6 linked regions of the Homo sapiens genome follow. The protein of the gene in region 6 purifies or fractionates together with the protein of the main gene of each other region. This does not show direct contact. Each region holds a gene or a part of one and is shown on either strand. Other genes may lie near its edges. The genes, in order: TRIM56, DIS3L2, TRIM38, TANK, RNF144B and TICAM1.

The links.
Region 1: the proteins of TICAM1 (region 6) and TRIM56 purify together in Homo sapiens (affinity purification with western blotting; one study listed by BioGRID and IntAct). This does not show direct contact.
Region 2: the proteins of TICAM1 (region 6) and DIS3L2 purify together in Homo sapiens (affinity purification with mass spectrometry; one large-scale study listed by BioGRID and IntAct). This does not show direct contact.
Region 3: the proteins of TICAM1 (region 6) and TRIM38 purify together in Homo sapiens (affinity purification with western blotting, with the first as the bait; one study listed by BioGRID). This does not show direct contact.
Region 4: the proteins of TICAM1 (region 6) and TANK purify together in Homo sapiens (affinity purification with mass spectrometry; one large-scale study listed by BioGRID and IntAct). This does not show direct contact.
Region 5: the proteins of TICAM1 (region 6) and RNF144B purify together in Homo sapiens (affinity purification with western blotting, with the first as the bait; one study listed by BioGRID). This does not show direct contact.

The regions. Positions count from the first base shown.
Region 1 is NC_000007.14:101,086,632-101,092,050, reverse strand, and holds part of TRIM56 (E3 ubiquitin-protein ligase TRIM56), read right to left. Parts: intron 5,046-5,419; 5' UTR 4,883-5,045; intron 4,740-4,882; 5' UTR 4,739-4,739; coding exon 2,471-4,738; 3' UTR 1-2,470.
Region 2 is NC_000002.12:232,083,018-232,088,436, forward strand, and holds part of DIS3L2 (DIS3-like exonuclease 2), read left to right. Parts: intron 1-4,469; coding exon 4,470-4,704; intron 4,705-5,419.
Region 3 is NC_000006.12:25,968,453-25,973,871, reverse strand, and holds part of TRIM38 (E3 ubiquitin-protein ligase TRIM38), read right to left. Parts: intron 4,548-5,419; coding exon 4,452-4,547; intron 2,004-4,451; coding exon 1,773-2,003; intron 819-1,772; coding exon 796-818; intron 700-795; coding exon 587-699; intron 1-586. UniProt on the Homo sapiens protein: E3 ubiquitin-protein and E3 SUMO-protein ligase that acts as a regulator of innate immunity. Acts as a negative regulator of type I interferon IFN-beta production by catalyzing 'Lys-48'-linked polyubiquitination of AZI2/NAP1, leading to its degradation.
Region 4 is NC_000002.12:161,165,759-161,171,177, reverse strand, and holds part of TANK (TRAF family member-associated NF-kappa-B activator), read right to left. Parts: intron 1-5,419.
Region 5 is NC_000006.12:18,456,038-18,461,456, forward strand, and holds part of RNF144B (E3 ubiquitin-protein ligase RNF144B), read left to right. Parts: intron 1-1,117; coding exon 1,118-1,322; intron 1,323-3,569; coding exon 3,570-3,714; intron 3,715-5,419.
Region 6 is NC_000019.10:4,814,406-4,819,465, reverse strand, and holds the end of TICAM1 (TIR domain-containing adapter molecule 1), read left to right. Parts: intron 1-949; 5' UTR 950-987; coding exon of another isoform or gene 988-991; 5' UTR 992-1,088; coding exon 1,089-3,227; 3' UTR 3,228-3,534; downstream 3,535-5,060.

The sequences.
Region 1 (5,419 bases), on a different chromosome or scaffold from region 6:
CCGGAGGCCGAGGCTGGCGGATCACTCGCGGTTAGGAGCTGGAGACCAGCCCGGCCAACACAGTGAAACCCCGTCTCCACCAAAAAAATACGAAAACCAGTCAGGCGTGGCGGCGCGCGCCTGCAATCGCAGGCACTCGGCAGGCTGAGGCAGGAGAATCAGGCAGGGAGGTTGCAGTGAGCCGAGATGGCAGCAGTACAGTCCAGCTTCGGCTCGGCATCAGAGGGAGACCGTGACCATGGAAAGAGAGGCAGAGGGAGACCGTGGGGAGAGGGAGAGGGAGAGGGACCTTGGTTTTCTTTCTTTTCTTTTTCTTTTTTTTTGAGATGGAGTTTCATTCTTGTTACCCAGGCTGGAGTGCAATGGTGCGATCTGAGCTCACTGCAACTTCCACCTCCTGGGTTCAAATGATTCTCCTGCCTCAGCCTCCCAAGTAGCTGGGATTACAGACGCCCGCTCCCACGCCTAGCTAATTTTTGTATTTTTAGTAGAGATGGGGTTTCTCCATGTTGGCCAGGCTGGTCTCGAACTCCTGACCTTGAGTGATCCACCCACCCCAGCCTCCCAGAGTGCTGGGATTACAGGCTTGAGTCACCGTGCCTGGCGCTTGGTTTTCTTATAATCTTCATTATTCTTTGCTGTGCCTACCTTTGTAATTTGTAGATAATGGAATGTGTCCACCCGGACTTTGATGATGTCCTGCATTGTTTCAATAAACAAGAAATGGTTTTCCCAGAAAGGGATTTTCTTTTCCCTCTACCTATGCCCTGCACATTCCATCTGGACTTGTCCAAAATCCCTCTGGTTCCCACGAATGCCCCACTGTCCACAGTCCCCACATTAAGACCCCCTTCTGCCATCTCTCAACAGCCCCTGGCTAAAAACATTCTCCAAGCCTACTTGCCCCCTCAATTCTACCACTGCCACCACTTATGAAAAGGTCCGGTGGTCACAGCCCACCTCCGACGGGTTCCTCCCTTCTGGTTTGACACCTCTATCCGTCGCAGCCCCATTGCACCTTCTAGGTTTTCTTGGCACCTCCAAGTTCCACTTGGCCTGCAGGGTTTAGCTGTTTCCCCAGCAATAGTGGCCCACAGAGGACAACCTTCCTTCACCCCCTAGTTCAGCCGAGTGAAGGCCAACATATCTCAAAAGGAATTTTGCTGGAAAATGAAGAGAAGGCAACACATAGACCCTGGGAAATGGAAAGACACCGAAGCAGAAGCGTTGGAGCCTAGAGATTTTTCTATCCTATGTACCTCTTCCCTCAGACTGGCTCCGTGGCTGCGTGGAGGGCTCCCCTGCTCTGACACTCATAACTTGGTATTTATTTATTTATTTATTTATTTATTTATTTATTTATTTTAACACTTGATCTTAGCTGAGAAGTGATGGATAACCTGCTTTTTCTGTTGTTTCTGTTTTTTTTTTTTTTTTTTTTTTTCGAGATGGGGTCTGGAATGCAGTGGTGCGATCATAGCTCACTGCAGACTCAAACTCCTCGGCTCAAGGGATCCTCCCACCTCAGCCTCCTGAGTAGCTACGTTGAAAGGCATATGCTACTACACGCAGCTAATTTTTAATCTTTTGTAGAGATGGGGTCTCGCTATGTTGCCCAGGCTGGTCTCAAACTCCTGGCCTCAAGCAATCCTCCTGCCACAGACTCCCAAAGTGCCGGGATTATAGGCATGAGCCACTGCGCCTGGCAGAGCCTGGTTTTTTTTTAATACTTAATCTTAGCCAAAAGGCTGAGAAGCGATGGAGAATGTGGATTTTTGGACGTGAATTCTGTTGGGTTTGGTTTTCCAGTAGCCTATTCTCTTCGCAGCCTTTGAACCTAACACCTCTTTGGCCCCAGCTGCTGTCTGCACTTGCAGACCCTCCTGCAAGCTCACCCTGTACTACCGCCGGGGGATGCCGTGATCAAGGAGCATCCTGCCTGTGGCTGGCAGAAGAGGCCATTCACTGCCCATTCGAAATCTCAGGCCTCCTCTGACTCTGTAGGACCCTGTGCCAGTCCAAGGGGGGCCGGGGTCTCAGCTCTGTTCCACAGTGCACACGCCTGACCCACCCTGGGCCCTTCTTGGCCCCAAGACTCTCCCTCGGCTACTCTATCAGGAATGGTTTTGAAGAATGCAAAGCAGGACAGGCTCACAAACCTCAGAAACCTAAACTATATAGCAGCGGCGGTGGTGGCAGCAGCCACCCACAAAAAGCAAGAGGCAGGTGAACTCCCAGCATCCCCCTCCACCCACCTGCCTCCTCTGCTTCTGAGAGTTAAGGTCACGCCACCACCTTGGTCCCTATTCTCACACACTAGAAGACGGGTTAGCAGTTTGGCACTCCATGTTGAAAAGTTGCCAACCCCTGCCCTTCAGGAAAATGTCCTCGGCCTCCACCTCCCACGGACAGCTCTGCCTCCTTCCTGCCCTCTCCCTCCCCACTCCCTCTCACCCTAGTCCTAGCCCCTTTAACTGTCCGGAGAACGGACCCGAAAGATGTGGATGGTCCCGTTACTGAGGGACACGACCAGGTACCTGCCATCCACCATGGTGGTAACCCGGGGCTTTTCCAGGCCGTGGTAGGCTGTCAGGAAGTCTCCAAGGAGGGACCCCTTCGGGTCCAGGATCACCACCTTGTTGACTTCTCGAAGGGTCAGAAAGATGTAGCCCTTCTTATCCACAGACACGGAGCCCGGCTGGCAGCCATGCAGGCCTGGCCCCTTGTACTCCCCAACCACCTGGCCCAGCCCATCACAGATTACCACACTATTCTGCTGCCAGTCCGACCCCACGAAATGCCCCTGGGGGCTGGTGGTCAGAAACACCAGCGCCCGCAGGCCCCGGCTGGCCTTGCCTCCAGGAATGAACCGGGTGGCCAGGCTGCCTTCCATATTGTACACCTCCACGTGGCCCGCCACGCTGACAGCCACGCGGTCCCCGCTAGGCAGTGCCGCCACCGCGTGGCTGGCCTGGGAGAGGCTCAGGGCCCTGCGCCACTGCACTTCGCCGTTGGGGTTGATGAGATAGAGCCGTGCGCTAGCGGAGAAGGCCACCGCGCTCTGCAGGGCGGCCACGCTGCAAGGGGAGCAGCCCTCAGGGACCGGCACGGTGCCCTTGTAGTCGCCGTTGAGGGAGAAGCGTTTCAGTGCCCGGTTCTGCTCATCCGCCACCAGGATCTCCCGGGGACCGAAGGGACAGAGCCCGGTGATCCGGGGGGACCGCTTGTCTCCAGGCATCCGCGTGGGGAAACTGCAGTAAAAGATGGGTCTGGGGAGGAGGCCAGAGCCGTCCAGATTCGGCCCCAGGGCTGGGCTGGGCTCCCGGGAAATTGACTTGAGCCTGCCTTTGAACTTTTTCTTCTTGTTGGGTCTGCCACCCCTGTGGGGCTGGGGTCCTCCATCCTCGTGGGGTGTCTGGGCCCTGTCCTCCTCCAAGGTCTGGGCTCCCTCTTCTCGGGTTGTCTGGGCTTTTTCCTCTTTTGGGGTCTGGGCTCCATCTCCAGCCTGGGGCTGGACTCCACCCTGTCTCTCAGTCTTCGGCTCATCCTCCCTCCGGCTCTGGCTCTCCTCACCTCCCTGGGTACCAGCTCCGTCTTTCCCACCATCCTTCTGGGGCTGCTGCTCCTCAAAGGACAGCCGAAGAAGGTGGCAGTTCTTGTCCAGGAGCCCAGGATGGAGCTCCAGCTGTGGGAGCAGGCAGGGGGCCGGGCCTGGTGCCCAGGGGCAGCCCTGCAGCTGCCTGAGCCGCTGTGCGATCGCCCCTTCCAGGGAGAGGATCTCGGCCTCTCGCCCCAGGCTGAGTACCCGGCGGGCGAAGGCGGCTGCGGCCCTGGCCACCTGCTCCCGGCCCTCAAGCTCCGCCAGCCTCTCCCGAGCAGCTTCTTCGGCAGCCTCCACGTGGGCTCGTAGCTGCCCCAGCACCTCCTGCTTCTGGGCCAGCAGGGCCCGGAGGACGCCCTCAGCCGCCTCCTCCACCTGAGTCCCCACCCGGGCCGCCTGCTCCCGCAGCCGGGCTAGCGCCTCCTTCTCCACCCTCCGCGCTGCCTCCAGCTCCACCAGGTTATTGTCCACACCGGCCAGCAGTCCCTCCAGGCCCGGCCTCCGGGCACGCACAGCTTCAGCCAGAGGCAGGCAGGGGTGGTCCAGGTGGGGGTCTAGGCGGCACTCTCTGCACAGCAACTGTGAGCAGGGCTGGCACAGGAAGCGCAGTGCCTCCCCGGGGTGCTGGGGACACTGGGCCGCTTGGCGCTCCCGGGCCTCCTCATCATACCACCCGGCCCTGTAGCCCACCAGGTCCACCACGCGGTGGGTGTGGGTCTGGCGGGTGCAGCGGTGCCCGTCGGCACAGGCCTGGCACAAGTCATCGGCACAGTCCAGGCACCGGGCCGTGGCCGGCCCCCCGGTGCTGGTGCCACCCACCAGGGGACACAGGGCACAGGCTGGCTTCCCGGCACGCAGGTCTCCACAGGCCCGGGCCTTCACCAGGTCCAGCAGCCCATTGACGAAGAAGTTGGTCTTGAAGGAGGCCACACCCTCGGGCGGCACAGGCACTGTCTCGCGGCACTCGGGGCAGCGGACGCGGCCGCCATCCGCCAGCTGTGCCAGGCAGTCTTGGCAGTAGGTATGCAGGCAGGGCAGTGTCTTGGGTGCCCGCAGCTGCTCCAGGCAGATTTTACAGGCCAGGAAGTCGCTGCTCAGGGCCTCCAGGAGGGAGGGCGAGGACCCGTGGGAAACCATGCTGCAGGCAGAGGCGTCAGGATCAGAGTTGAGAAGGCACCTTCACCAGCTCACCCTCTAGCTTCTACCGCCCGTCCTCAAGCCCCACGGATCCCCAGGGCTAGGGGCTGACCCAAATGGCCGGGAAGGAACCTGAGGTCTCACCTGAATGGCCAGGAACTTCCTTCTAGTCTTCTGAGGCCTTGGGCCACTTGCTCTTGAGCTAAGGAGCTGCCCTCCTCCTTCTCCTCCTCCTCCTCCACTTCCGTGTGTACATCCAGCAAACGTAAAAATGTCAGTGCTACTTGTTGGGTCAGACCTGTGAGAACTGACAAGACCAGGAGTCCCTGGCCTTAGCTAATAATCGAATCCTCAGTGTCCCCAGTCCACAGGCCTTGTGGCAAACATGGTGGAAGCCCTCCTGTGTGCACAGGTACTGGGGTCCTGCTGTATAGGGTGCCAGGGTGCGAGGAGCAGGCAGTAAGGACACAGACGGGGATCCCAGTGGGCAGAGATGCCTAGGTCCTGCCAGTTGGGGTAGGATCTTGCAGTAGCTTAGGGGGCTTTAATCCTCCAAGCCCCATACACCTGCCTTCTTTTTATTTTATTTTAGTTTTTAGCAATAGGGTCACCCTCTGTCACCCAGGCTGGAGTGCAGTGGCGTGATCGTAGTTCACTGCAGCCTCAAACTCCTAGACTCAA
Region 2 (5,419 bases), on a different chromosome or scaffold from region 6:
AGATCATGTGAGACTTATTCACTATCATGAGAACAGCACAGGAAAGACCCACCCCCCCATGATTCAATTACCTCCCACCTGGTCCCTCCCATGACACATTGGAATTGTGGGAGCTACAAGTCAAGATGAGATTTGGGTGGGGGCACAGCCAAACCATGTCGCCTTCTCTTCCCATTCTCTTCTTAAACTTCGTATGCATGAGCCAAAGCATAAATTATTAAGTAAGTAGGCAGGCAGAATCACGCTGATTACAATTTATACCCCCCCCCCCCCCCCCCACATATACATACATGCAGAGAAAGACCTTTCACTGTGAGAAAGTTCAACCTGCAGATTGTATAACAAAGTCAGAATTCTGGTACCTATGATATTTCTCCGTGGTTGGTGGGAACCAAATCCTTTGTGGAACCACTAGTGGCAGAAATAAATACAAAATAGAACCTAAAGGCCTGAGCTCTTTGCATAATGTCTTCTTCTTCTTTTTTTTTTTTTTTTGAGACAGAGTCTCACTCTGTTGCCCAGGCTGGAGTGCAGTGGCATGATCTCAGCTCACTGCAACCTCTGCCCCCTGGGCTCAAGTGATTCTCTTGCCTCAGCCTCCTGAGTAGCTGGGATTACACACGTGTGCCACCACACCCAGCTAATTTTTGTATTTTTAGTAGAGACAGGGTTTCACCATGTTGGCCAGGCTGGTCTTGAACTCCTGACTGCAAGTGATCTGCCTGCATTGTCCTTCCAAAGTGCTGGGATTACAGGTGTGAGCCACCACGCCAGGCCCATAATGTCTTTCCAGGAGACTACCTTTTACCTGCTAGACCAACTGCAGCATGACAGTTGCTTTCTTGCCCAGAACTTCTCTCTCTGAGATAAAGTATGTATGGGGATGATACAGGAAAAACCATTAAACCCGAGATTGTATATAGCCACCATGCTTTAGACATAGGGTATACACCTGTGCCTTCTGCCTGTGCTTAGGCTGCTCTGACAGTACCCAAGGTTGTATTAGTTCTTTGAGGATGGTCAGGGGCAGATGTTCCTAAATATTTCTGAATTTGCCAGGCATATTTAAGGAAATTGAATGAATTTGTTGATTTGAGTGATATCGGATTCTTTTTCTGCTGTAACTTGTCAGTAAATTTTCTTATTTTTGGATGATCTTCTTTGGGTCAGTTATGAAAACAAGGCTTATGTGGTAAAGCAGAAGTGCAGATGGGGGAGCTGGTTTTTTAATTGTACAGGCTGTGTATTCCTTATCCAGAATAAGGAATTCTTATCCAAAATAAGGTCCTTTTTGGGACCAGAAGTGTTTTTTTTGGGTTTGGGATGTTTTTCGGATTTTGGAATATTTACATTATACCAGTTGAGCATCCTAAATCCTAAAATCTGAAATCTGAAATGCTTCACTGAGCATATCTTTTGATTGTCATGTTGATGCTCAAAAAGTTTCAGATTTCAGACCATTTTGGATTTTCAGATTAGGGATGTTCAACCTGTGTATCAGTGCCCTAGCTGTAGCTTCACTCACATGAGCTCTTGCAGGAAGGGCCCTGCGGGAATCTTTTTGGAGATTGCTGGCCTGGCCAGTAGAACTTTTTTGTAGTATTAAAGAGAGGGAGATATGTCTGTTTCTAACTTCCCATTGACAGATGAATGGACAAATGAATGTATGAATCTGACATGAGTCAAAACAAGCAAAAAAGAAAATTTTATTAAATATACTCAGGGACTGGGAACCAAGTTTTTAAAAAAGTTTGCTCAAAAGTTTTGAGCACAGTTTTGCTCAAAAAAAAAAAAGCATTGTTTACAAGTTTTTCTATTACTATATTTTTATGGAGTCAATTTTTACAAACTGAGGATATATTCTTACCTTTATTCTGATCGTTCTTTGTAATATTTTACTTTGGTTTTCTGAGTTGATATTATAATATTAATTGTCTAGGAATGGTTATGTTAATTGAACCTACTGTATTAAAATGCTTTAGGAAAGATTTAATAACTTTTTCTCTCTTGTATAAGGTGAAGATCTTTCACTAAGCATGATCTTTGTGTTACTTTTAATTAGAACATTAGACCTATCAAATATAAACATGGTGAAACTGCTAGAGCTCTCTTACTTCATTCAGGTCTCTGCTCAAATGCTGCTTCCTCTAAGCAGTATTTCCTAATCACCCTACTGATAAACTAGGCACACCCTCTCCATTATTCTCTCATTTACTTAACGAGCTTTCTCATTCTTTCAATATATTTAATTGCGCTTCTCACTAGTCGACTTTTGATTGTGTTCACTGTTCTGCCCTTGGCACCTAGAACAGTTTCTGGCACCATGAAAGGGACTCCATAATGACTTGTTGAATGAGTAAATTGTTCATCATTTGTCACCCCACTAGGATGTAGGACTCATGACGGTGCCTGGCACGAGGTGGGCATTCCAACATTTGTTTGAAAGAATAAAAGGAATGTTTACAAGTAGTGATCAAATTCATTTTTTATATTTATGTATATACAGGTGATCATTTAAGTTTTAATTATATGTTTAAATTGAACATAGGTATTTATCATATAGAAATAGATTATTAAAAAGGATGCAGTATTCAAGTAACATCCAAGAACCTACAAAATCTGCTGCTTTTTTGCTAATGTGGATGGGCAGATTTACATGTAGGGTCACAATTTTTTTCAGTGACTCAATAACACCTGGTGTATTTTAATATAGTGTCCATAGACATCAGAGTGCTGTATGTGACAAACTCATAAAATGGATTAGTATCTGGATTGGTTTTTTATTTTATTTTATTTTATTTTTTTTAGAGCTAGAATATCCCTTTGTCGCCCAGGCTGGAGTGCTGTGGCGTGATCATAGCTTACTGTAACTCCTAACTCCTAGGCTCAAGTAATCTTCCCACTTCAGCCTCCCAAGTAGCTAGGACTACAGGCGCCCTGCCCCCCAACTATGCCTGGTTGATTTTTAAATTTTTTTTAGAGGCAAGGTCTCAATATGTTGCCCAGGCCGGTCTTAAACTCCTCCTGCCTTGGCCTCCCATAGCTCTGAGATTACAGGTGTGAGTCACTGTGCCTGGCCTGGATTTTTTTCCTCTACTTGCTTCATTAGTATTGTAGTGTAAATGTCCATCAGTGTGTGTGTGCTTTATACGTATATACGTATATATACACACGTATAGACGTGTATACGTATATATACACACGTATAGACGTGTATACGTATATATACACACGTATAGACGTGTATACGTGTATATACATATACGTATATATGTATACATATATACATATGTATATGTATATGCATATGCATATGTATATATACATATATGTATATATATGTGTATATGTATATGTATATGTATATGTATATGTATATGTGTATATATACATATACATGCAGAGAAAGACCTTTCACTGTGAGAAAGTTCAGCCTGCAGATTGTATAACAAAGTCAGAATTCTGGTACCTGTGATATTTTCTCCATGGTTGATGGGAACCAAATCCTTTGTGGAACCATTAGTGGCAGAAATAAATACATAATAGAAACTAAAGGCCTGAGCCTTTAAATATATATATATATATGTGTGTGTGTGTATATATATATATATACACATATATATATATGTATATATATATATATGTGTGTGTGTGTGTGTGTATATATATATTTTTTGAGACAGAGTCTCGCTCTGTCACCCAGACTGGATGGAGTGCAGTGGTGCCATCTCGGCTCGCTGCAAGCTCCGCCTCCTGGGTTCACACCATTCTCCTGCCTCAGCCTCCCAAGTAGCTGGGACTACAGGCACCCGCCACAACTCCTGGCTAATTTTTTTATATTTTTAGTAGAGACAGAGTTTCACCGTGTTAGCCAGGATGGTCTCAATCTCCTGACCTCATGATCCGCCCGCCTCAGCCTCCCAAAAGTGCTGGGATTACAGGCTTGAGCCACCGCGCCTGGCCAATAAAGCTTTATATTTTTATAAGAACATTTTATAAACTCTTGTTCACACTTAATTTTGTTTTTTTTCCACTTCATCTTGTATTCTTGTGGTTTCCTTGGTTTCCTTTAGGAACACTGTGGCATACTTTGTTGAGTTCTTTTATCATTCCCTAACTTACTAATTGTTCCTATATGGTGAGGGTTTATGAAGCAGCATGGTACTACTTCTGGTATTCAGGGCCTTTGGGGAGAGGGGATGAAAATGTAGATCAGAAATATGAGAAGTGGATAAGGCATTAATTTGGGGCATCCTGAAGAGCTGAGTGTCAGCCTGGCTTTGCTGGATTGATTATGTGCATTAGGTGGTCTGTGCTTCTGGAAAATAAAGATCCTTTTTTGAACTACATGATTAGTGTCCAATACCGTTAGCTTCTGAATATGCAGTTTCTTCCTTAGAAAAGAAAAATCTGCTCTTTTTTTTTTTTCCTCTCTCAGTGATTTAGCAGAATTTTTCTGTTTTCTTTAGGTAGTTAAACCAGAGAGCAATGACAAAGAAACAGAAGCTGCGTATGAATCAGATATCCCCGAGGAGCTCTGTGGACACCATCTCCCGCAACAGTCCCTGAAAAGCTATAATGACAGTCCTGATGTCATTGTAGAGGCTCAGTTTGATGGCAGCGACTCAGAAGATGGACATGGCATCACACAAAATGTGCTGGTTGATGGTGTTAAGAAACTCTCAGTTTGTGTTTCTGAGAAAGGTGAGTACTAGACTATTGTCTTACTTTTTTTTTAAGTACACTGATTAAGTATTGGAATTCCCTCTCTGCTGCAGAGTAAATAACACAATGCCATTGATATAGTCCTAATTTTTGACCTGTGGCAGCTTTCAGAAAAGGGGGATCTTTGACAGGTTTAGCTGCTGGTTATGAAAGAGGGGATGAAAGTGCTTCCAGCGGTTTGTGTGGGCAGTAGTTGCAGTTGCCACATTCCTAATAGGCTTGAGCTGTGTTGCTGGTTAACGTTGACATCTCTTGCGATAGGCGCAATCCTGTGGATGATGTGAACACAATTAAACTGGTATGTAAAATTCATATGAAAAATCACTTTATTTTACTTTCAGTTTTACTTTAAATATCTTTTAGAAGTATTTTTGTCGGCTGGGCACAGTGGCTCACGCCTGTAATCCCAGCACTTTGGGAGGCCGAGGCGGGCGGATCACGAGGTCAGGAGATCGAGACCATCCTGGCTAACATGGTGAAACCCTGTCTCTACTAAAAATGCAAAAAAATTAGCCAGGCGTGGGCCGGGCGCGGTGGCTCACGCCTGTAATCCCAGCACTTTGGGAGGCCGAGGTGGGCGGATCACGAGGTCAGGAGATCAAGACCATCCTGGCTAACACGTTGAAAGCCCGTCTCTACTAAAAATACAAAAAAAAAAAAAAAAAAAAAAATAGCCGGGAGTTGTGGCGGGCAC
Region 3 (5,419 bases), on a different chromosome or scaffold from region 6:
AAAAATCAAGGGAGCAGGAAACTCAGTAAATGGTTCTAACATTTTGGAATCTGTAAATTGGTTGTAACATTTGTCATCTGTGTTATCTAAGTCAAGTTCCTAAAATATGTGAATGATAGGTTATCATACTCACCTACTTTTCTTGCATTGCTCTAAGAGTTGGCTGAGCTATTGATAATAAACACTATGATCAGATCTAATACCATGATGTGCTATTATGATCATGTGTCAGTCACAGGGCTAAGCACTTTGTACATGTTGATGCATTTAATTTTGATGATAACTCAATGAAGTAGGAGCTGTTAATATTTTCATTTTTCAGAGGGGGAAACCAAGTCACTTGGAGTAACATGGCTAATAAGTGAAAGAATAAGAATTTGAAAGGTTTGCACAGATAACCAGAATGCAATGCTCATCACATTCACTGAGCAGTGAATCATACTAACTAGAGAAAGTATGAAAGCTCTACTGAAATTAACTAAACAACCTCTCTGGCTGTGAGCCTGCCAAGGGACAGGTGGTAAACTTGGTTACTGCATAAGGCCCCTTCTATCCACAGTATTCAGGAATTCTTTAGTGAACATACCTTGATGACTCCTTAACATTTTCTTCACATCGAAGTAAAGCTTGGAAACATTGCACATAGTATGAAGTTCCAAGGAGACAGCCTCTGATGTTTCCAGCTTCACAGCCCAACTCCTAGAATAAGCAGAGGCGAGAGATTTCTTCAGAGGTGCATTCCATTCATTTCTATATACGCACACCCCTCCCCTCCTGCATTCAAACAGGACTTACCTGCTCAAAGTGTCATTCACATTCTATAAAGAAACAAAAAGAAAAGGTGAGCATGGGAACATCGGTATTTCATGGGGCTTGTCATGCAGGGCTATTCTTCTTTGCTTTACCCGAAGAAGTAAAGAGAGTTACCCTAGTCTTAGTCTTAGATATTGATGGATACTCAAACAAAGTAATTCCCACCAGTCTTAGGTATTGATGGATACCCAGATGGAATAATTCCTACCAGCTTCTGGGAGATTCAGCATGGCAGGATGTTTATCAACATTTGCATCTATTCTCATCCTTGCTGAAGTCTGAGGGCCAGGAGCTTTGTCCATGCTCCCTCTGTAAGGACTAGCTTTTGGTGATCGGATTTCCTTCACAGTGAGCCCAGATTAGAGAACACTTATCATAAAGGTCCTTAGTGGTGAATCTGTGCACAGCCCTGAGACTGGGCCACTGCCACTAAGATGGTGGTAGCAGGTATCACACAGTGGTAAAGCAATCATGCTATACACTCAGCCTTACAGTATAGTCACCAATCCTGTTAGTTAGAACCAGAATTAATGGCTCCAGATGTTTATCTTCCTACAGATAAAGCTGTAGATTGTACCATAACAGCTCTGGAGCAAGGGTTCTACAAGCAAATCAGGGAAAAGGTTATCACTCATTTTGGCTGCCCCACTTCATCACCCATCAGTCACCTAGTGGAGTATTTCAGGAGAGAGTCAACAACCAGGGTTCTCTGCACATGGGCCAAGGAGGCAAACAGTGGTAAATGTTATCCCGTGGTTTCATTTGGCCAAGCTGTGTTCCCTCAGAAGTTTATTTTTCTAATTGACATAAAGGTACCCTATAAATTAGTGAAGGCCAGCCTGATGGCACTGATGTACATCTAAAAGAAACATTACTTTATCTTCCCATGCTTCCTTACCATTCTCCTTTAATAGCACTATAACATACCTTTTTTCCCTACTCCAAGTACACAGCCTCACCTGCAGCAATTTCTGGGCTGAGCCCTGACATTTTTCCTCCAGTTCCAGGATGTGGCTCTTGAGTTCATTGCTCTTCAGCCCCAGACCAGCCTCATAGTCCCTCAGTCTACTCAGAGTCTGTTGTTCTTCTTTCTCCAGCCTCCAGAGATAAGACTTCTCTTCCTCATGTAGGAAACACTGGAGATTCTTAAAGTCAGACCGGATTTTTTGTCTCTGAATCTGTACCTTCTCCTGGAGTCAAGAAAGTATGGTCAAAAGGTGGAAGTAAACCAAATGTCCATCTATGGATGAATGGATAAACAAGAATGAAAGTCTGACACACGCTACTACATGACAAGCCTTGAAGACATTCAAGCAAAATAAGCCAGAAACAAAAGGGCAAATATTGTAAGACTTTGCTTATACAAGGCATCTGGAGTAGTTAAGTTCATAGAGACAGAAAGTAAAATAGTGGTTACAAGGTGTTGGCAAGACCAGAAAATGGACAGTTATTGTTTAATGGGTAGTGAGTTTCAGTTTAGAAGATGAAAGATGAAACTGAGTTGCAGTTTGGAGATGGGAATGGTGATGGTTGCACAACAATGTAACAATGTAAAAGCACTTAATTCTACTGAACTATATACTTAAAAGTGGTTAAATGCTTAAGTGTTATATATATTTTCACACAAACACACACACACACACAATCAGCCACTGGGACATTATTTTCTCATGAGTCACTGAAGCTGGAAGAATGTCCCCAGTTTCCTGCTGCAGAGTCATGTGTGGGAGGCAGGCACTCAGATGTGGAAGAGGTTGCCTCAGATTCCTTATAGTCACCCAATTAATTTTCTTGTTCTTCAGCCAAGACACAGGAGAAAGCTGGGTTAGGAGTGCTAGATAATTTAATTGTGAAACTAGGGCCAAGTTCAAACACTTTATCAGTTACAAGGATAAAAAGAGGTTTTTACTTATGATTTAAGAAGTTAGATTTCTGAGTTGGAGCGATTTTCTTGAAGTAAAAGCTTATAATGAACATCACCCAGACTGGATTTTAAGACAACCAGGCTGGTAAGAGGGTCCATAATTCTTGGCAGGGGGAGCTTTGAGTGTGACAGGCATTTATTATGGTTAACTGAGAAATACTGTTCTACTACCCTAGGGTCATCTTAAGCATTCCTATGTGTAAGACTGACAGAAATCAAGTGAAACTCTCATCTGAGGAGATGTAAAGTTGCAATTTCCATTAGTGCTGTCTAAATTAATGCAGTGGGAGTGTGTATTCAGGGCAATTTGAATCTATGTTCTTGGATTGCAGTCTTCAAACTTGGCCCAAATAAACTCTCTACTTATCTTAAAAAAATAAAAATTAAAAAATAAAAATAAATTCATACAGTGTTTTGATGACTATGATATAGAAGAAGGGTCTTTGACTTAGGATGAGGTGGAATTTTTGTGTAGGAGACAGGTGCAGCTTTAACTCTTGTATAGACGGGTTTTCATATATGTTAGTTACAATCAAGGTCTTCCCCATTGCCCAAGATCCTAGAAATGGGGGAAGTAAGAGTGTACTCAGGAGCTCAAGAGCAACATCCACAAACAAAGATCAGGGTAGAGGTTAGAGAGGACTCCTGAAAGAGAGAAAATTGGTAATCAGCTTGTGGGATTTTACTGCAAGCTAGTGAATTATATAAATATAAAGATTGGTGCAAAAGTAATTGTGGTTTTTGCCTTTACTTTAATGGCAAAGACCGCAATTACTTTTGCACAAACCTAAATATTTCCATAAAAGAATGTGGCTCTGATAATGTGGAGGTTAGTCAGCCACGGAAATAATCTGAAAGTTTGTAGTTGCAAGTGTGTAGGTTGTTGCATTACTTGTGATGTACTTATAAATCAAGTATAGGCCGGGTGCAGTGGCTCACGCCTGTAATCCCAGCACTTTGGGAGGCTGAGGTGGGTGAATCACGAGGTCAGGAGATCAAGACCATCCTGGCCAACATGGTGAAACCCCGTCTCTACTAAAATACAAAAAATTAGCCAGGCATGGTAGCACATGCCTGTAATCCCAGCTACTCAAGAGGCTGAGGCAGGGGAATTGCTTGAACCCGGGAGGTGGACATTGCAGTGAGCTGAGATCGCACCACTACACTCCAGCAAGACTCCATCTCAAAAAATAGTAATAATTTAAAAATAAATAAATAAATAAAGTATATTTCTTTCATCAGCTTCATGAGCTAGAGTAGTATGAATTTCAATCTGGAGTGATCCTGTTTTCTAAGTGTTCACAAAGCTTGGTTTCTGTACCTGTAAAGTTGAGAGCCAGATGCTCCACTGTGGTAAAAGTGCCAGGGTAATGAGTTGAGGCCTGCAAACCAGGTTTATTTTGACGTATTTAAAGTTTGAGACCCACTCGATGCTTTTTCTAGGTAAATAGTCATACTAATTCTGCTTCTTCTGACTGAAGTATCAGGAATCCCAGCCAACTACAGTTTAAAGATGGAAAGATTGGTGCTAAATACTCATGGATGTAAACCTGGAACCAGGGGCATAAGTACAAATAATGGTTTCTTCCTTGGGTTTCATTTTTTCAATCTGGTTTAGTGAGAATAAATCCTCATTGTGCTTTTCCTCAATCATCCCCTATGCCTAAGCTCTAGAATGGAAAATAGCTTGAGATCAATGAAGTCAGATTCTTACTTTCCATTTAGTTATTCGCATTGCTGTGGACAGCTTCTGCTCCGTACATCTGTCTTCAAGTTGCTTCAGTTTTGTCACAGCTTTCTGGAGCTTTTCCTGAAGGAAAAATTTGATAAGTGAAGCCTATTCAATTTGACTCTTCATTAGGGACCTAGGGGGAATCCCAATCTTCTAAGATATATTTGAATAATAGTGAATATTTATAGAGTCCTCATTGTTTTTTGCTAGAGAGCATGCTAAAGGCTATATGTGCAGGAACATACTGATCCCCTTGGCAACCCTGAATAGTTGGTAGGATTTTAAACTTCATTTCTGTGCTGTAGAAAATGAGACTAAGAAAGGGGTAAAATAACTTGCCCAAAGGGCTATGACTGCCAGGTGGTGGAGCAACAATTGCAATCTCATCTGCTGACCCAGAGCCTGAGCTATGTCCACCACTAGAGTCCTGCCAGGAAAAAGTTGGATATAGAACAAGGTAATCATCATCTAAAAGATTTTGTAAAACAACATGCTGAACCAAGCAAAACCAATACCAGTGTTTGGCACACATGAAATTTTGTGTCTTATGAGTCAGGAAAAATCAGGATGCCAGCTGGTTATTAGAAACAGTTCATGGAAGAGGGGAATTCTGGTATCTTTTGAACAATGGTATCATGAATCCAATTTAAAATGATTTAGTATTCATGTCAAGCTTTTAGCTTATTCTTCAAAACAGTTTCTCATATTTCTATTGAAAGTGATTTGAAGCTGACCCAAATTGCTAATTGTAGTCAATGCTGAAAGAATTGTCTCCTGTCCTCTGTAAACCCAACAAGTATACTCATTCATTCTCGAGTGTTCTCAGGAAAAGGTTCTATGTAACTGTTTTAGCAAAAGATGACATTGTCCTTACTATATGCCAAGTGCTATTCTATGCATTCTATATTTTAATGTCCTCAAAGCTTATAACCACCTCCTGTGTATGTGTT
Region 4 (5,419 bases), on a different chromosome or scaffold from region 6:
TGTGCCAAAATTACCCAACTTTCTACCCTTTTCAAGGCCACACCAGTTTACCTCAAATATGAATATTCAGACCTAGTAAATCTTAACACTTGCTGTGCCACCCTACTGTGGGGAAGTAATAGTTGATTAGAAACTCAGATTTGCTGTTTCACTTCCTTTTGCCTCTGGAAAAAAATAAAAAGACACTATAAAATAAAGATTGCAAATGATATTTTTAACTATACCACATCTTGTGTAAAATGTACTAATTTCTCTGCTAAGGCAATTTAGATCAGATACTCTAAATTAAAAAGCCTAGTCAACTGAAGATAAAATCAGAGTTGAAGTATACAATACATGTCCAGTCTAGACAGGCTTGGTGATGGGTGAGAGTAAACAAGTCATTTAACCTTTCTATGGACCTCTGTTCCCCCATTTCTCCCAATTCAGAATCTTGGCGTAGAGTCAGGCTGTAGGACATTGGTTCGCAACCTGTCAGTAAATTAGAATCATCCACGGTGGTTTTAAAAAATACATTACCAAACCCTGTCCAAGACTCCTGGATCTAATTTTGTACAGTGGGGAGATGTAAGATGGATTTAAAATTACTGCCATAGGGGGTCGAGTCATAGCTTGGAAAGCACTATAAAATGCTATACAAATATGCACCAACGCAGGGAAACAGGCTTTCATAAAGTTGCCTTTTTTCCCATAGTGATCTGCTTTTTAATTATTCTACAAGAAGTATATAGAATTTCGGAACAAAAATAGCAGTTGCTAAGGTAGAAGACTTTCTCAAATAAATAAATAAAGGTATTTTGATACTTTGGCAGATGGCCCAGAGCAACAGCACTTTGTTCATCTTGCTTCCATAAAACTTCCACAACTCATCAACTTAATTAATAGAGAAAACAAATGTTTTCTCTATTAATGGCATTTGTTGAAGTTCTTGTTGAGAAATTTGACTGACCATAGCCCATCTCCCACTAAGTAGCAATGACACTTTTAACTTGATGTTCCTCCTATCAATACTCTAATCATCTTAATTCTATTTCAATTCTCAAACTATCTACAGATAGTTGAGAGACAAGATAGATCTCAAAGACATGCCTTTAATTCAAAGAGGCACAAAGAGTCATGGATAAGAAGGACAATCTCAGTCTTCTGTTTGGATGGCAATCATCCCAACAATGAAGAAGGTGGTTCCCTATTTGATCATGGGAAGCACTGGGGTTAGGGTCGGAACAAAGATCTATTTGCAGGTGCTTTACATAAACTACCTCATTTTTAATCTTCCCTCTGCAGAAGCATATATTGTCTTCCCTTTACAGAGGAGGAAACTGAACTTCAAAACTGAGCTTCAAAAGGGTAAATAAGTTGCATAAGGCACAGAATTAGAAAATGGAAGAACCAGATAAACCTAGGTCTCTGTTGCTAAAGCACAATCTCTAGCTCTCTCCCCTCTAATTTTTTATTTTAATCAGAGCTATACGTACCTATATCTTAATGAGTTGTGTAGTTCTACAAAATAAGAAAAACAGTAGTCCTCTGCTTTCCCCTTCCTATTTCCTGCTTCACCTTCGCAACAAATTTTGACTAATTCTTTTTTGTATTTATCTCTGTATCCCTAAATAACATGTAATACTGCCACTACTGATTTTTCAGTTTTTGTCTCTTCATTATGGAAAATTAGGATTCAGCTCTCTTTAAATATCCCCTACCTCCTATTCTCCCCCATTTCCCCAATACAGTTATATCTAATTTTTCATTAGATTAGCATTCAGCTTTTACTTTCTTATTACTATGTAATGCTATTCACTGTTGAACAATACCATGGATACTTTTCCTTTTCTGAAAACTTTTTTCCCTGAAAATTCTTGTTTGCTTTGTTTCCTATTATCACTAATACAACTCCTCAATATATTCAGACACGTCAGGTATTCTATCTCTTTAGAAGAATCACTCTGTAAGCTTTCTGGCTTGCTCCAATCTAGACTAGTTGCTCTCTATGCCTGATGGAAAGCCTTCATCTTGGGACCTTCTTTACCTTGAATTTGGGGATACCCTTTGTCCATCTCTTTCTTTAATTGAATCCCTCATTTTCAGTCTCCTGAATCTTGTTTTATATCCCCACGTGGTGACGCAAATCTTGTAGCAGCTTCCTAAGAAAGTGTTTGGGAAGTAAATTTTTTGAGGCTTTGCATAACTAAAAATATCTTTACCCTCTGACTTAACGGATCCTTTGGCTAGATTAAGAGTTCTAGGTTGGAAGTAATTTTTCCTCAGAATTCTGAAAGCTTTGCTATGCTATCTTCTAGCTTCTGTTTATTTTTTTTGAGGATCAGATCCATTTTGATTCCTGATCTTGTACAATTCTCACTCTGTTGCTCGAGGCTGGAGTGCAATGGTGTGATCTCAGCTCATTGCAACCTCCACCTCCGGGATTCAAGCGATTCTTGTGCCTCAGCCTCCCCAGTAGCTGGGATTACAGGCGCACGCCACCACACCCAGCTAATTTTTGTATTTTTAGTAGAGACGGGGTTTCACCATGTTAGCCAGGATGGTCTTGAACTCCCAGCCTCAGGTGATCTGCCTGCCTCGGCCTCCCAAAGTGCTTGGATTATAGGCATAAGCCACTGTGCCTGGCCTTAAACCGATTTTTTTCTCTTTGAAAACAATTAGGATTTTTTTTCTTTTTGTCCCTAGGATTCTGAAATTTCAGGACCATACTTGGCCATGGACTATATCATAGCAATAGGTGTTTGGTGGGCCCTTTCAATCTGGAAATTCCTCCTTCAGTTCTTGGAAATTTTCTTGAAAATTTTTTGGGGCAATTTCTTTCCTTTTGTATTCCTTTCTGGGACTTCTACTATCTGGGTTTTGAATCTTCTGTACTGGTTCTCCAATTCTCCTTATTCTGCCACTCCTTTTAAAATGAACTTCCCTCCTTATTTCATAGTGAGAAATAAAAACTTTTAATGTGAGGAGTGCAAACCCATTTTAATTATCAGGCCCAGAGAGGCACTGAAATGTAAGTGTGTGACAGCAGTCACACCTCACTCTCCCGTGAACTAAATGACCCTCTTGAAGCTACCTACTATGTGATGCCAAGTAGCCATAAAATGCCATACGTTAGATACCAAAACTCATGCCCTATAGTTCAACAATGTATAATCACTAATCAATGTTATTTCTGTAAACCAGTGAGAATTCCTATCAAATAACTTAGTATCAGCCCATTCTTTGCTCTCTTTTGCCTTTAAAAACCTGGTTGCGGCCAGGCACGGTGGCTCACACTTGTAATCCCAGCACTCTGGGAGGCCGAGGCGAGCGTATCACAAGGTCAGGAGATCGAGACCATCCTGGCTAACACGGTGAAACCCTGTCTCTACTAAAAAATACAAAAAAATTAGCCGGTCGTGGTGGCGGGCATTTGTAGTCCCAGCTACTTGGGAGGCTGAGGCAGAAGAATGGAGTGAACCCAGGAAGCGGAGCTTGCAGTGAGACAAGATCGCGCCACTGCACTCCAGCCTGGGTGACAGAGAGAGACTCCATCTCAAAAAACAAAAACAAACAAACAAACAAACAAAAACCTGGTTGCAACAAAGGCCGAATGGAGCAACCCCCCAAGGCAACCTGGAAGTGTGTCCAAGGCAGCTGTCGTCAACCTTTACCCAAATAAATTCCCCATATTAATTTTGCCTCCATTTCTTTAGGTTGACAATAGATACAATATCTTAAGTCTGTTGTCTTTGGCAGCCATTATCCTGCCAAATGACAGCCAACCAATCCTGGATAAAGAAAGTAGTAATCAAGGGTAAGTAGTGGTGCCTCTGGAGCTGCACTGAGGCTGACAGTGTATGAGCCAAATCATGTTCCACCTCTAACTGCCTGTTCAACCAGAACATCTGAGCTTTGATCAGTTATGTATATATACATTGGAATTCCACGTTTGAAGAGAATCAAAGGCTTAAAGGTAGGATTTTCGCCATCTTGACCCCAGGATGATTAGTCATTCTTTAGTAAGGTCTACTTTTTTGTAGGTGGTTGAGACAAGTGTGAGTAATTTGGGAGGCAGGCAAGGCCCCTCTGCTGGGTTTCCCCAACTGCTGAGCCTATTCTGTTTCTGGGTAAATGTTCTGCCAGAGTTCACACTTGTGGTGAGAGACCAACTCAAATCTAAAGCAGTTTCAGGATGGGGAAAGGAAACCACCTTGAATAACTGCTACTCCTTCCACTTTGCCCTAGAAAAGAAAGCCACCAGCCTTTCCCAACCCCTTGGGCTATGAATAAGAGGAGTTCATATTCTATTTCAGAAAAGTTGCCACTGTAGTACATAAAGAGGTGAATCAGTGAATGAAAGACAAATTCTGTGTTTTTGTTTTGTTTTTTGTTTTTTTTTTGAGACAGAGCTTCACTCTGTCCCCCAAGGGTAGAGTGCAGCAAGTGTGGCGGTGCAATCATAGCCCACTGCAGCCTGGACTCCTCGCCTCAAGCAATCCTTCCACCTCAGCCTTCTGAGTAGTTGAGATTATAGGCGTCAAGCCACTGTGCCCCACTACATCTTGGTCTTTTCTGTATCTTAGTTACATGCTTGCCTTCTCACCCACAAAACACATCAGGAGTAAAAAGCAAAAAAATCAGTCAACAACACGACATATACACATAAATAAGACATCTTCTCTTTTGGATGGTTAGGAAGATCTTTAAAGACACTCAAAAATATTAAGTGTGTTTTCCTTACCTGAAGAAAGGAAATGGAAGAGAACTGTCACTACTCACATTTACTTGTGATCATTTTCCACTTTTAAGGAGTTATATAACACAAGCAGCTAATTCCCCAACTGACCTCTTGCATTTCTATTCTCCTTCCACATTGTAAACTTTGGTCATGAATATACCCATAGCATATTGTACTACGCTGTTTCTGTGCTCCATCCAGGCAGCTGATATAATAGAAACCTTAAATATCATAAATCCAGCAGTGTTAGAATTTGAATTTTGTATTTTTCCATAAGCTGGAAGGCTAAATGCAACAGGATAAACAAGACAGTCTCACTGGTTAAACCCAAAGGTCCCCAGTACATGTTCTCCATTTTGCTGGATGTTAGAACTTGGTGAAATTTTCTATGTGATCTTGCAAGAGCTAAAAGATTTCACTGTCAAAGACCACACCCATGAGTCTCAGTTTTGCCTTACTTCCTTTTTTTCTCCAGTAATACTTCTTTCTCTGAGACTATTTATCAAATGTTATGGGTTTAAGTGCACAACTAAACAGTATAACACCAAAAGGGAAAGCAGGCATGTGATGTTCTACTCCTCTGAGGTGAACGTAAACATGGCACTGCTCAGTTGGCTGTGCTGAACTGAGTAATCTTTAAGGGGTATCCTCTCCTCTGACTAGGGGCAATGTTAGAATCTGAAGATGGGGGAGGAAGGA
Region 5 (5,419 bases), on a different chromosome or scaffold from region 6:
TCAGCCTGCCAAGTAGCTGGGACTACAGGCACCCGCCACCATGCCCGGCTAATTTTTTGTATTTTTAGTAGAGATGGTGTTTCACCCTGTTAGCCAGGATGGTCTTGATCTCCTAACCTTGTGATCCGCCTACCTCAGCCTCCCAAAGTGCTGGGATTACAGGCGTGAGCCACAGTGCCCGGCCCACATGTGGGTCTTTCACACATTGTCCCTAAGTTGCACATTGGTAGGGAGCAGAATATCCAAACTGACAGGTAATCCAACTTCTTGGCTAAGCCACACCAGATACTGTTTAATCCCTAAACTATTTGATTATTTTCTTCCTTGTTCTTTAATTTCCTGGGAATGTGGAAGAAACCTCACTATCTGTTTCTCAGTGCCTGAAAGGACAAAGTCTTTTTGGAAAAATATCTTATTAAAAATTTGCTTTTTATGTCCAATTCTCTTCCAAGATAGTGCCCAAATAATTGTAGAAGGGATTTGAGATTTTTGCCTATTTTACGTGCTCAAAGGTGGGAAATATTCTAAAAGTCTTGTGAATTTTGTTTACAGAGAACACTTTTTATCTGTTCATAAAGGCAATGGTAAGCTATTCTGTTAGTACCTACTTTGAGAAATGTGGCAGGGCTTAGCGACCTTGTAAATGATAGGTTTGGATCCATTATGAAGACTAATAGTAGAAATCCTCACCCTTGTTGTATTATACTTCCATAAATGTCAGTTTAAAAAAGAGGGTAAATGGGGCAGGTGTGGTGGCTCATGCCTGTAAAATCCCAGCACTTTGGGAGGCCAAGGTAGGCAGATCACCTGGGGTCAGGAATTCGAGATCAGCCTGGCCAACAAGGTGAAACCTGTCTCTACTAAAAATACAAAAATGAGCCAGGCGTGATGGTGCGCACCTGTAGTCCCAGCTACTCGGGAGGCTGAGGCAGAAGAATCGGTTGAACCCAGGAGGGGAGGTTGCAGTGAGCTGAAATCATGCCACTGTACTCCAGCCTGGGCGACAGAGTGAGACTCTGGTTCCAAATAAATTAAATAAATAAGAGGGCAAATGAAGGTGAGAAAGACTCAAACATGAATCGGGCAGACCATCACATTTTCTTTCTTTACACTTTAGAAGTTCATCTGGACCCCTACCGAACATGGTGTCCTGTTGCAGACTGTCAGACAGTGTGCCCTGTTGCCTCGAGTGACCCAGGACAGCCTGTGCTGGTGGAATGCCCTTCTTGCCACCTGAAATTCTGCTCGTGTTGCAAGGATGCTTGGCATGCAGAGGTCTCCTGTAGAGACAGTCAGCCTATTGTCCTGCCAACAGAGCACCGGTAAGAAAGGAAACTTTGTCTTTGGGATTATTCACTAGTTTTCTTAGAAATTCAACATACCTTACGTGTAGAAGGAGTTACGTTGTGATGGCGTTTAGAGATTGGTTATTTTCCTGCAGAACTTCCCTGAGAAGTGTCTCAGAATTGGTAAGTTGCCAACAAAAAAGCATTTCTAGTTGTTTGCCCCAGAGGAATCTTCCAGATATTGCTGGAATTAAAGTTTGTATGAGTTTTGCTTTCTCTTTAGGTAGTGAGGCACCGTGGTCTACTGGTTCTCAGTAGGAAATCATGACTTGTTCCCGCTCTTTGCTCAGATACAGTATCTGCCTGTATTGGTATATATCATTCTTGTTGCTTGCAAAATGAGAAAAGAAATTTTCTTACCTGACTAAATTGCCAGCTCATGATGTGTGACAGTCATATTAGAAAGAACACAACAATAGAAACAACGGTCCTAAATTCTTTCAGCACGTAGAAAGGAGGGTTCTCTCATGATATTTTATGCTCTGTAAAGGTTGAGATTTTATCGTGATAGGAAGCAATTAAATCTGTACCTTTTTAGTACAGCGGGTTTTTTTTTGTTTTGTTTTGTTTTTGAGACAGAGTCTTGCTCTGTTGCCTAGACTGGAGTTCAGTGGCACGATCTCGGCTCACTGCAACCACTGCCTCCTGGGTTCAAGCGATTCTCCTGCCTCAGCCTCCCGATTAGCTGGGATTGCAGGCACTTGCCACCACGCCTGGCTAATTTTTCTATTTTTAGTAGAGATGGGGTTTCACCATATTGGCCAGGCTGGTCTTGAAATCCTGACCTCAAGTGATCCACCCGCCTAGGCCTCCCAAAGTGCTAGGATTACAGACATAAGCCACCACACTTGGGCGATACAGAGGGTTTTTATGGCAACAGCAGTGCCCAGAGTGAGAGACCTCTGTGTTTCATTCCTGCTTTGCTTGAGGCTATCGTTGTTCTGCATCAGCAAGAACAAAATACGAGTGTTGTAATCCCATTGGCTTAATCACACAGTGCACCCAGAATGTGTAGAACCAGGCTTCATGAATAGTAATGCTACTTGGCTACGATGCTGTGCTTGAATCTCAGAACAAACAAATGGAGAGGAATAGAGAAGCTAATACACATGGCAGGCATGTGCCCTCTTAGCCGGATTCAAACCACTGTTGCCTACATTTTCGTGGCCATAGCAGGAAGCTCCGTGGGTATCACAGGGCAACGTAAAGAACTCAGAGGATAGGAGGATTTGCATTCTGACATTGTCACTCGGTATCTGTGTGTCTCATAGAAGCCACTCAGCCTCTGTGAGTCTGTTTCCCTATCTGAAAATAAGGGAATTAAGATACAAGTTGAGCATCCCTTATCCAAAATACTTGGGATAAGAAGTGTTTCAGATCTCAGTGTTTTCAGATTTTGAAATATTTTCATGATATGTTTATTGGTTAAGCATCCTTACTCTGAATACCAGGAGTCAGAAAGGCTTCAATGAGCATTTCCTTTGTCATGTTGGCACTCAAAAAGTTTCAGATTTTGGAGCATTTTGGATTTCAAATTGTGGACTAGGGATGCTCAACCTGTAATAACTGTCTTATGACAATATGAGGTTATTGTTCATACGAAGTCTGATAATAGATTTGACAACACTCTGTGAGTTGGATATCTCTGTGTGCTGGGTGGTGGTTTTGATGGGCAGTAGCTAAAGTGTTACATGGTGCTATCGCTCACTCCAATTCCTGTTGCTTATTTTCTGTGCCCCTTGGGGCTGTGAGCCTGTATTGGTCTATTCGTCTGTTTGGAGAAGGTCTTTTGAAAGTATTTGACATTATTTTAAAGTGTTTATATTTGAGAACCCCTTCTCCATTTGTCTAATGAACAGACCATTAGATAGATTATATACGCCCAGTTTGGACCCTGACCTAGTTTCTCTGCTGTGTAGCCAACTCCTTGCCATTCTTATTTAGGCAATGCATGCTTAGGGAATGAAATATTAATTTGACAAAATAGTGAGTTAAATCAGTGGTGGAAACTGTAATTATATAATTCACTGAAAGCCAAAATAAATAAAGATTCCTTCTTGTATGAGTTATCTGTACATCTAATAATGTTTTTGCCCACACCCTTTCTTTTGGAAGTGAATTAAGCATGGATAACTGTGAGTTCATTATCTAACCATCAGGAGCCCTGGGAATTCAACTGATGACCATCAGCTGAATGCCATTTCTCATCCATTTTGTTTCTAGAGCCCTCTTTGGGACAGATGCAGAAGCCCCCATTAAGCAGTGCCCAGTTTGCCGGGTTTATATCGAACGCAATGAAGGCTGCGCTCAGATGATGTGCAAAAACTGCAAGCATACATTTTGCTGGTACTGCCTCCAGAACTTGGATGTAAGTTCCACCTAGGTTTGTTGTATGGTGTTTCCTATACTGTATCTGCACCACAGCTGATATCCTACAGATTTTCCTTTAAAATATTGGGGCAATTTTTGTCCTGCAAAAGGAATTTATTTTTCTTAATGAGACTTACTAAGCCTGATACTTTAGATATCTAAAAACATCTTTTTGATGACCTTACATATGCCACCCTGGTGTTAAAGGCAAGCTTTTGTTTTCAGGGCATTTCTTGCTATTTGCACATTGTCTCTATTATGTAAAGGACTATTAGTGTCTTCATTTTATATTGCTGTTGTAACGAATTAGCACATACTTAGTGGCTTAAAATACCACAAACTTATTATCCCACAGTTCTTCACTTTGGAAGTCTGACATAGGTCTTGCTGGATTAAAATCAAGGTGTCAGCCGGGCTGCATTTCTTTCTGGAGGCTTTAGGGGAGAATCTGTTTTCTTGCCTTGGAGGCTGTCCGCTTTCCTTGGCTTGTGGCCTCTTCCTCCATCTTCAAAGCCAGCAACATCAGATCTCTCACTCCCTTCTTTCTTAGTCGTTGCTCCCTCTGACCACAGCTGGGAAAGGTTCTCTGCCTGAAGGACCAATGTGATGAGATTGGGCCCATCAGGATAATGTAGGATAATCTCCTTTATCTCAAGGTTCTTAATTTAATCACACTTGCAGAATCCCTCTTGTCATATAGGGTAACACATTCACAGATTCTGGGAATTAGGCCATGATATCTTTGGGAGGTAGTTATTCTGCCTACCACTATTAGATTTTTTCTTCGTTTTGAATTTAAAGAAAAATGGTTCAAATCAATGGTGTCTCCTAACTCTCTTCTCTCCCTCATGCTCTCTTGCATGCTCTCACTCGCTCTCTCTCTCTCTTGTTCATGAGCATGCAGCAGTATCGCTACTGTTTTGACAGTGTTCCCTTCCCAGATCAAGGGGCTTGGCTTAATTTTTTCTCACCATTCATGAATCAAGTCTCAAATTGAGGTGCAGTTTTATTCAGCCCTGTGCCAAGGCTAATGGTAACTTCAGAGTTAAAAATGCGATGCAAAGAGTTGGTGAGAAGGTCTTACTTCACTTCTGGTCTTTTAAAGTTTGGGGTAACATAAGTTGTTTATAGATAACACTCTGTTTTGGCAATTTGGACCTCTAAAATATGTCCATATCAGCGTAAGCCCTCAGTTACCATTGAGTTGCTATTCTTTTCTCAGCTCTTTGTTTTGATTGCTTGATTTGCTTTAATTCAACAAGCGATTTGTGTAGTGCTTTAGTTCAGACATGCTTAGTGAGTGAGTGTGCAGTTAGCATGTAATGTCATCAAGCAGGCCACCACCTGCTTGATGTTTAATGGAAAACTAGATATGTTGTTTAAGATGACATGTATGAATAAGAATAATAACCTCCATCTTAGTGATTTAAGAAGAGGTATAAACTGAGGAGAAGAAAATGGACATTTTAGACTCTAGAAGTTCAGCAGCTCAGTTTGGAAGAAATATCTTCTATTTAAAAATTGATTTATCATAGGCCCTTGAGTTACAATTATGTTTGATATTTAAGACCTAGCATGCATCTAAGTGAGTGATATTCTGGATGAGGATTTTACTGATTGTACATTACACATGCATTACAAATGAAAAACAATTTTTTTTTGTTTTCCTTCAGGTTTCACCAGAATATTAATTGGGTTCATAT
Region 6 (5,060 bases):
AGCCTCCACAGCCAGACTGCCTGGGTTGAAATCCGTCTTCTGCCATCCACTGATAGTGTGACTTTGGGCAAGTGACATCACCTCTGTGTGTCTTGCTTTCTTCATCTGTAAATGGGGAAAATAGTGTAATAGTGTTTACCTCTCAGGTAACACCAGGTAAGTCTCAGATGACAGCATTTTTTTTTTTTTTTTGAGACTGGGTCTCACTCTGTTGCCCAGGCTGGAGTGCAGTGGTACCATCATAGCTCACTGCAGCCTCAACCTCCTGGGCTTAAGCGATCTTCCCATCTCAGCCTCCGGAGTAGCTGGAACAACAGGCACGTGCCACCACGCCCAGCTACTTTTTTTGTTTTTTGAGCCGGAGTTTCACTCTGCTGCCCAGGCTGGAGTGCAGTGGCATGATCTTGGCTCACTGCAGCCACCACCTCCTGTGTTCAAGCGATTCTCCTGCCTCAGTTTCCCAAGTAGCTGGGATTACAAGAATGCACCACCACTCCTGGCTAATTCTTTGTATTTTTAGTAGAAACGGGGTTTCACCATGTTGGCCAGGCTGGTCTCGAACTCCTGACCTCAGGTGATCCCCCCGCCTCGGCCTCCACAACTGCTGGGATTACAGGCTTAAGCCCCCTCACCCAGCCCAGCTAATTTTTAAACTTTTAGTGGAGACGGAGTCTGGCTGTGTTGCCCAGGCTGGTCTCGAAGTCCTGGGCTTAAGTGATCCTCCTGCTTCAGCCTCCCAAAGTGCTGAGATCACAGGCCTGAGCCACCACACTGGCCTCATAGCATTTTGCAGAGGAAGAAATGGAAGTTGAAGGAGGCGACGTGTTGCCGAAGGTCACCTGGCTAGGTCTGGGTGGCAGGCGGGGAAAGCAGGCGGGGGTGTGTGGGCCGCCTTCCCGTGCTGACCTTTCTTGGGGGTAAGTGTGTTTGCTTCTCCTGTTTCCTACAGATCTGCTTGGGCAGCTCCTGCAGAACCTGGAACAGTGAATGGGTAGGGGACACTGGGCGTGCAGAAGGCGGGGGGCAGTGTGGAACATGCCTTCACCACCTCCAGCTTCTGCTGCCGGAGGCTGCACCCACCTGTGCCCATGGCCTGCACAGGCCCATCACTTCCTAGCGCCTTCGACATTCTAGGTGCAGCAGGCCAGGACAAGCTCTTGTATCTGAAGCACAAACTGAAGACCCCACGCCCAGGCTGCCAGGGGCAGGACCTCCTGCATGCCATGGTTCTCCTGAAGCTGGGCCAGGAAACTGAGGCCAGGATCTCTCTAGAGGCATTGAAGGCCGATGCGGTGGCCCGGCTGGTGGCCCGCCAGTGGGCTGGCGTGGACAGCACCGAGGACCCAGAGGAGCCCCCAGATGTGTCCTGGGCTGTGGCCCGCTTGTACCACCTGCTGGCTGAGGAGAAGCTGTGCCCCGCCTCGCTGCGGGACGTGGCCTACCAGGAAGCCGTCCGCACCCTCAGCTCCAGGGACGACCACCGGCTGGGGGAACTTCAGGATGAGGCCCGAAACCGGTGTGGGTGGGACATTGCTGGGGATCCAGGGAGCATCCGGACGCTCCAGTCCAATCTGGGCTGCCTCCCACCATCCTCGGCTTTGCCCTCTGGGACCAGGAGCCTCCCACGCCCCATTGACGGTGTTTCGGACTGGAGCCAAGGGTGCTCCCTGCGATCCACTGGCAGCCCTGCCTCCCTGGCCAGCAACTTGGAAATCAGCCAGTCCCCTACCATGCCCTTCCTCAGCCTGCACCGCAGCCCACATGGGCCCAGCAAGCTCTGTGACGACCCCCAGGCCAGCTTGGTGCCCGAGCCTGTCCCCGGTGGCTGCCAGGAGCCTGAGGAGATGAGCTGGCCGCCATCGGGGGAGATTGCCAGCCCACCAGAGCTGCCAAGCAGCCCACCTCCTGGGCTTCCCGAAGTGGCCCCAGATGCAACCTCCACTGGCCTCCCTGATACCCCCGCAGCTCCAGAAACCAGCACCAACTACCCAGTGGAGTGCACCGAGGGGTCTGCAGGCCCCCAGTCTCTCCCCTTGCCTATTCTGGAGCCGGTCAAAAACCCCTGCTCTGTCAAAGACCAGACGCCACTCCAACTTTCTGTAGAAGATACCACCTCTCCAAATACCAAGCCGTGCCCACCTACTCCCACCACCCCAGAAACATCCCCTCCTCCTCCTCCTCCTCCTCCTTCATCTACTCCTTGTTCAGCTCACCTGACCCCCTCCTCCCTGTTCCCTTCCTCCCTGGAATCATCATCGGAACAGAAATTCTATAACTTTGTGATCCTCCACGCCAGGGCAGACGAACACATCGCCCTGCGGGTTCGGGAGAAGCTGGAGGCCCTTGGCGTGCCCGACGGGGCCACCTTCTGCGAGGATTTCCAGGTGCCGGGGCGCGGGGAGCTGAGCTGCCTGCAGGACGCCATAGACCACTCAGCTTTCATCATCCTACTTCTCACCTCCAACTTCGACTGTCGCCTGAGCCTGCACCAGGTGAACCAAGCCATGATGAGCAACCTCACGCGACAGGGGTCGCCAGACTGTGTCATCCCCTTCCTGCCCCTGGAGAGCTCCCCGGCCCAGCTCAGCTCCGACACGGCCAGCCTGCTCTCCGGGCTGGTGCGGCTGGACGAACACTCCCAGATCTTCGCCAGGAAGGTGGCCAACACCTTCAAGCCCCACAGGCTTCAGGCCCGAAAGGCCATGTGGAGGAAGGAACAGGACACCCGAGCCCTGCGGGAACAGAGCCAACACCTGGACGGTGAGCGGATGCAGGCGGCGGCACTGAACGCAGCCTACTCAGCCTACCTCCAGAGCTACTTGTCCTACCAGGCACAGATGGAGCAGCTCCAGGTGGCTTTTGGGAGCCACATGTCATTTGGGACTGGGGCGCCCTATGGGGCTCGAATGCCCTTTGGGGGCCAGGTGCCCCTGGGAGCCCCGCCACCCTTTCCCACTTGGCCGGGGTGCCCGCAGCCGCCACCCCTGCACGCATGGCAGGCTGGCACCCCCCCACCGCCCTCCCCACAGCCAGCAGCCTTTCCACAGTCACTGCCCTTCCCGCAGTCCCCAGCCTTCCCTACGGCCTCACCCGCACCCCCTCAGAGCCCAGGGCTGCAACCCCTCATTATCCACCACGCACAGATGGTACAGCTGGGGCTGAACAACCACATGTGGAACCAGAGAGGGTCCCAGGCGCCCGAGGACAAGACGCAGGAGGCAGAATGACCGCGTGTCCTTGCCTGACCACCTGGGGAACACCCCTGGACCCAGGCATCGGCCAGGACCCCATAGAGCACCCCGGTCTGCCCTGTGCCCTGTGGACAGTGGAAGATGAGGTCATCTGCCACTTTCAGGACATTGTCCGGGAGCCCTTCATTTAGGACAAAACGGGCGCGATGATGCCCTGGCTTTCAGGGTGGTCAGAACTGGATACGGTGTTTACAATTCCAATCTCTCTATTTCTGGGTGAAGGGTCTTGGTGGTGGGGGTATTGCTACGGTCTTTTAATTATAATAAATATTTATTGAATGCTTCCGCAGCGCCATTGTCTTCTGGGACACCTTCTGCCTGGCTATTTGTTATAAAACACGTGGCTCCCGCTCCCGCAAAAGGGAACAGGAAGCGGGAAGTGCACGCCTCTTCTTGGAGGGCATAGACCGGCCTTTGCCCTCATCCCATTGGCCAGAATATAATCACATGGCCCTGCTCCTGCCGCAAGGAACCCTGGGAAATGTAGTCCTTTCTGAACGGCCGTGTGCCTCCCGAGTCGGGGTTCTAATACCAGGAAAGGTGGAGGGAAAAGATATTGTTGAGGGCGGGGAGGGTGCAGCCTGGGCAGCATGGTGAGACCGCGTCTCTTCAAAAATACAAAAGTTAGCTGGGCGTGGTGGTGCACGCCTGTAGTCTCAGGTACTCAGGAGGCTGAGGTGGGAGGATTGCTTGAGCCCAGGAGCCGAAGGCTGCAGTGAGCTATGAATGAATGAATGAATGAATGAATGAATGAGTGAGCGAGTGAGTGAATGAATGAATGAGTGAATGAGTGAGTGAATAAATGAACGAGTCAGTGAATGAATGAGTGAAAGAATGAACGAGTGAATGAATGAGTGAATGAATGAACGAGTGAGTGAATGAATGAGTGAATGAATGAACGAGTGAGTGAATGAATGAGTGAATGGATGAGTGAGTGAAAGGATGAGTGAATGAATGAATGAGTGAGTGAATGAATGGATGAGTGAATAAATGCATGAATTTGAATGAATGCCATTGGGGGACATTTAGCAGTTTTTGCTGCAGCCCTTCCTTTTTCTTTGGGGTCTGCCTTTGATGCCCCCACCAAGGTTGGACTCCGATGCCACTGTGTGACATTTGGCAAGTGCCTCCCCTGTCGGAGCCTCTGCTTTTTCATCTGAGAAATGGGTCTGTGGAGGCTGTTGTTTCAAGGCCTCAGCGGATCATATGCAGAACCACATATCAGGTACACCATACCTGGGTAGCAGGTGCAGCACTCATTAAGTATGGGGACCCACATGGAAGGGATTAATATTTTTCAGGGTGACAGACCTTCTAAGAATAAGAATGGAGCCAAGGTTTGTTGGACACTTAACATGTATTGATTCTGGAGTGTCTAAATACATAAACAAGACTGGGTGCTGTGGTGGCTCACATCTGTAATTAATCCCAGAACTTTGGGAGGTTGAAGTGGGAGGGTTGCTTGAGGCCAGGAATTCAAGACCAGCTTGGGCAACATAATGAAACCCCATCTCTATTTTTTTTTTTTCCTGAGATGGAGTCTGGCTCTCTCACCCAGGATGGAGTGCAGTGAAGAGAGCTCAGCTCACTGTAACCTCCACCTCTCGGGTTCAAGCTATTCTCCTGCCTCAGCCTCCCGAGTAGCTGGGATTACAGGAGCTCGCCACCACACCCGGCTAATTTTTGTATTTTTAGTAGAGATGGGGTTTCGCCATGTTGGCCACGCTGGTCTGAAACTCCTGACCTCAGGTGATCCACCTGCCTTGGGCTCCTAAAGTGCTGGGATTACAGGCGTAAGCCACCACACCC